Regions from separate parts of the Homo sapiens genome. Here region 1 is linked to region 2. A link means that fine-mapping ties the variant in region 2 to the expression of a gene that starts in the linked region. Tissue or cell type: whole blood. Region 2 holds a variant in brackets; the other region holds the start of a gene. All regions are shown on one strand. Distances are between the middles of the regions.

The links. PIP is the estimated chance that this variant, and not a neighbour inherited with it, causes the effect.
Region 1: it holds the start of PACSIN2, and the variant in region 2 is fine-mapped to the expression of PACSIN2 in whole blood (TOPMed, PIP above 0.99).

The regions. Positions count from the first base shown.
Region 1 is chr22:43,013,748-43,016,371 of GRCh38, forward strand. PACSIN2 (protein kinase C and casein kinase substrate in neurons 2) reads right to left here and starts at 1,402. Exons shown (of 11, transcript NM_001184970.3): 1 at 1,274-1,402. RefSeq lists enhancers at 1,004-1,707, 1,690-1,889 and silencers at 1,130-1,199, 1,320-1,369, 1,380-1,569.
Region 2 is chr22:42,972,118-42,974,872 of GRCh38, forward strand. All of the region lies in intron 1 of PACSIN2 (protein kinase C and casein kinase substrate in neurons 2), which reads right to left. Among named protein-coding and RNA genes, the nearest start is that of PACSIN2, 42 kb to the right of the region's middle. The variant A/C (reference allele first, on the strand shown) is at 1,361.

The sequences.
Region 1 (2,624 bases), 42 kb after region 2:
CAAACTCTTTGAGCTGGTTTCCTGATTTTCATCAAGACAGCCAGGCAGTATTTGGTAAACAGTGTACCAAGTAGCCCTGGAGACTCTGAGCAGCCTACCCCCTTAACCACAAAAACACCGGACAGGCGGAGGGAAAAAGAGAAGACAGGATCCAGGAATGGTGCACACACCCAGCCAAAGGCCACCTTCCCTCAGGCACCCAAGCCAAGAGTGGCATCCCCAGGTCCTGTTATACGTCAAAGGCTGCAGCCGTGTGGGCCCCAAAGCAATAGCACAGCTTGCTCCCCTGACCAACCAACTCCTTCTGAAAAGAAAATCGACCTTCTCTGATGGAGCCGAAACCCAATGAATCAATGAAATTCAACAGCAGCAGCAATCACTACCTCTCCAATTGCGGACCTCTCAGGATGCCTGGCCAGGCTTGAAAGCCCTAGAGGAGTAAGGAGTTCGGATTTCTGATTCAGTGAGTCTGGGGAAACTCTGAGGAGGGTCACAAGGGCAAACCTCCCCGGCCTCTCCTGCTTGGCCCCAGCCCTAGGACGTGCTGCGGTAAGGGCTTTGCTCCCCCCGCCCTACACACACACACACACACACACACACACACAGACACACACACACCACCCCCCCCCCCCCGGGACACGGAGGGTGGGAAGGAAGGAAATGGAGGCCGCTCATCAAAGCGCCCGAAATCAGCGCACCCGCGTGTGTCCTGCGTCGCCCCCCAGGCCACCCCAGGACTAAGCCCTGCCCTCTCACCGGCGCGTCCCAGCCACGCCTTCCCTCCAGCGTTGCTCCGGCACCCTCGCCTAACCTCTGCACGTCTCGGATTCCCAGCTTTCTCCTAAATCGCGTCCCTCCAAAAGTCGCCCCAGCTCCCCCTTCTGCAGCTGTCTACACCTCCCCCACTCATTAGCAGCTCTTAACCCCCGACGGCCCTGCTCCTGCACTTCCCTCTCCAGCAGGCCCCGGACCCCGGAAAACTGCCCCGCTCCCACAGCGCCGCCCCCATGGGCCCCCGCCCCTTCCCCGAGCCGACCCCACTCGCCCTCGTCCTCCCCAAGATGTCTTCTCCAGGCGCCCCCCGGGGCCCCGAGCACTCGCCCCCTCCCACAGAGACAGGAAGTTCCGCGCGGCCCGACCCGCTTCCCTCAGGGCGCGGAGCTCGGCGCGGCGGCCCTGACGGGGCGCGGGCCCGGCCGCGGACCAGCGCCCCCGCGTCCCGCCCGCGGCGCCCCAACCGTCGCGGCGACCCCTGACCTCGGCGGCCACTCACCTCCCAATCCGTCGCACACTCCGTTCAGGCTGCCACGGCGTCTCCAGACCCAGCTCCGGCCGGGCTCCCGCTACCGCTTTTGCTCCGGCAGCACTGCCCAGCCCTGCCCAGACCCCTGCGGCCGCTTCTGCCGCCAGCCGCGACCGCACCGCCCCCGCCGCTCCCGCTGGGCTCTGTCCATTGGCTACCGGACACCGAGCCCCGCCCCACAGCCTCCCCGGCGCCCCCGATTGGGCCAGATGAGTAGAGAGGCGGCTCACCCCGCGTGAGGACGAGGGAAAGCCCCAGGACGCGCATTGGTGACTTCTCCTGTCAATCAAACGGGGAGTGCCTATTTAATGGGCTGCGAGGGTGGCGCAGATTACTCTCCCAAAGCCGCTCGCTGGTGGTGGTCCTTGAGACGCGCTTCCCGGGGCTGGAGTTTTGCGGTTTCGTCGGCATCCAGGGGTAAGAGGGCGCGGCAGGGCAGCACCGCACCTGACCGGAAGTTCAGGGAAGGTAATCCTACAGTCTTTCAGAAAGTTTCCTCTCCCAAGGGACTCAAAGAAGCTAATGTCGTTAGGAGCTCCTCCGACTTGCGCCAAAAGCGTCATTCCACGTGGACCCGCTTAGTTTAAACGGGGGGTTGGGGGGGCGTATGTTGCTGCTCTCTCTAATAAAATATATTTGGATGGCAAGGCACCAGGCAATGCACACGCATTCTTTCCAATTCTCACAATCACCTTGCATGATAGGGTATTAGCCCCGTTCTGCAGAGGGAAATACTCTTGAAGGAAAATGGAGAGCACTTCCTGAGCACTGTCCTACGCGCTGTCCAAGCACTGCTTCATGTCATCCAGGTGGAGAGGATGGTGAGAGGAACCCCAGGTGAGGGGTGAGCCAGGTAACTTGCTGGGGGTGATGTGGAGTAAAGAGAGTAAATGGCAGAGCCAGGATTAGAAACCCAGGTCAGCCCAACCCTTGAGAATAATAATGATGACTGTGTAGCACTATGGGAAAATGCTTAAACTAAAACGTTAAAAGAAAAAGCCAGATAGAGCCAGGCATGGTGACATGCACCTGGAATCCCAGCTTCTTGGGACGCCGAGGCAGGAGAATCGCTTCAGCCCAGGAGTTTGAGGCCAACCTGGGCCACATAGCAAGACCCAGTTCTCTAAAAAGTAAAATAAAAGAAAATAATAATAAAAGAAAAAGCTAGATACAAAATGGTAGAAACTGTAGAATTGCTGCTACATATAGATAGGTATGAGAAAAGAGTCCACAAAGAAATCTAGTGGTTGTTTACTTTCTAGACTGCTCTGTGGCATTGTCCTTATGACAATAATTGAGAAAGAAACAAAAGAACCGGCTA
Region 2 (2,755 bases):
TGGAAAGAAGTAGACATAGGAGACTCCATTTTGTTCTGTGCTAGGAAAGATTCTTCTGCCTTGGGACGCTGTTGATCTATGGCCTTGCCCCCAATCCCGTGCTCTCTGAAACATGTGCTGTGTCCACTCAGGGTTAAATGGATTAAGGGCGGTGCACGATGTGCTTTGTTAAACAGATGCTTGAAGGCAGCATGCTCTTTAAGAGTCATCACCACTCCCTAAGCTCCAGTACCCAGGGACATAAACATTGCGGAAGGCCGCAGGGTCCTCTGCCTAGGAAAACCAGAGACCCTTGTTCACATGTTTATCTGCTGACCTTCCCTCCACTATTGTCCTATGACCCTGCCAAATCCCCCTCTCCGAGAAACACCCAAGAATCATCAATAAATACTAAATATATATATATATATTTTAAACCACCACCATTTTAGAAAAATAGTTCCTTATACATCTAGGAAAAAAAGATATGATCAGAACTGTGCACTAGGAAACCTGAAGTTGTAGCTCTGCACCAGGATGGGCCCAAAGTGGCCAAAGGAGAATTCCACCTCTGGGCTTTCCGACCTGGACACCACGCCAGGAAGCACACAGTCTACTGCCTCACTCTAAGAAAAGTCAGCCATGCTTTTACTTTTTTTTTTCTTATGTTGCCCAGGCTGGACTTCAACTCCTGGGCTGAAGCCATGTTCCCGCCTCAGCCTCCTGTGTACCTGGATTACAGATGCATGCCACTGCACCCAGCTCAACCGTGCTTTTAAATGGCTTTGAATGTGCTTCTTTATAACAGCATCTTCCTACATTTCAGACAGGACAAAATTCTAGAAATAAAAGCACACACCTGGATTTTCTAATTACGAACAGCATGTGAGGATTGTTCATTGTGAACCAGATTTATCATGACTTTTATGGCTGGGGTCAATACGGAAGTAAGAACTTTGACAGGGCAGTCATATATCTGCCCACATACTGCAGCAAACACATCTGGGACATGACCGTCAGCTCAAACAAGAATATCAGTGAAATATTCCTATCCAAAATGCCCTGCAACAAATTACTGAAAGATAAGGAGAGAAAGCGAGAAGTGGTGTTTTTAAAACAATCTTTAAAAAGAAAAAAGGCAGAAGACACTGTAAAAAGTATTTCCAGAACAGAAGGTTCAAAATGACAGACTCTGTCACAGGTCTCGCCCACAAGGCAATCCCTCCTGAGCAACTTCATTATTTCCACTTGCTCAGGAATTGACGAGCAAAACACAGGTCAAAACTTCCCCAGTGCTCTGAATTATGCAACTGGGAATCTGTACCACACTGTTTTTTGTCAACAAGGCTCCACTGAAGCTTCCTCCTTTAACTTCTCATTG[A/C]GAAAAAGACTCCAGATGCTTTCCCCATTCATTTTTCAAATGTTTCATTCAATCAGAAACTCTACATATACACTTTGGAATTTACACATTTGATAGCTGCAAAGCTCGCAAGCAAGCTCTCCAGCCAACATGCCTGCCTGTCTCCGCCCAGGTGTGGCAAGCCCCACACTTGTGCCACGCATGGCCCCCTGCCCCATAAACCCAGACTGGGTTGGCTGCTCTCCCCTGTAACTGACACAGAAACAGGCCTGCTACACTCCAGTCTTAGGCCTGGGCCCATCCTCCACTCCCGTCTCCATCATCCCTCATTGCCCTTGTTTCCTTGGCACCTAGCACAGGGCTTAGGGTCTAGGGGCACAGCATATGCTAAAAGAGGAAAAGAGAAAAGCCCACGAGAGAAATGGCAGCCTCATCCTTGGGGACACATAGCTCAGGTGTGGATGCCAAGTACCAAGAACAGAAGCGTAGCCTTAACTTGTAGCCTGATACAAATGCCAGCTCACAGCCCACGAGCTGTGGAATCGCAATTCAATTTACCTCAGAGCCTCTGTTTCCTCACCTGTATAAAAAGGACCAGCATCTCCCACCTCACATGTTACCAAGTGGATTACATGAGATAAAGCACCTGGCCTGGTGCCTGGCAGCTCACTGTTGTCCTGAAATCTATGTAAGTCTCCTTCCCTCCGTATCCCTATGTCGACTCTGCTTCCGGTTATCCGCCATCCAGTGTACCATGACTAGGTACAATGAAAAACAAAAGCCAGTTCCACCAAGGGCCTGGCGCCTGAACCGTCTACCCAAGGCCCTTTCCCATGAGCACCAAATAGCAGGTGCCATACCCAGAGCATTCACCTGTTAATTAGATATGATCTACTTCTAAACAGTAGGGAAGGATGCCAGCTCCCCTTTGCCAATGATTTCCATTCCCTCAATGCTCCTGGTCTAAGCCACGCCTAACTCCTCCCCACTGGAGAACAGTAGAGGAGAGTGCTCTTCCTGGTGAGTAGGGGCAGAAGTACCACATACAGGCTTCTTGTCTGGGTAGAGGCCATCCATTAAAAGATCATAAGCACCAGCCATGGCCAACATGGTGAAACCCTGCCTCTATTAAAAATACAAAAATTAGCTGGGCATGGTGGTGTGTGCCTGTAATCCCAGCTACTCGGGTGGCTGAGGCACCGTAACTGCTTAAACCTGGGAGGTGGAGGTTGCAGTGAGTTGAGATTGTGCCACTGCACTCCAGCCTGGGCAACACAGTGAGATCTTGTCTCAAAAAAAAAAAAAAAAAGAAAAGAAAAGAGAAGAAGGAGGAGGAGGAGGAGGAGAGGAAGAAAAGAGAAAGAAGAAGAAGAAGAGGAGGAGGAGGACGAGGAGAAGGAACAACAACAACAACAT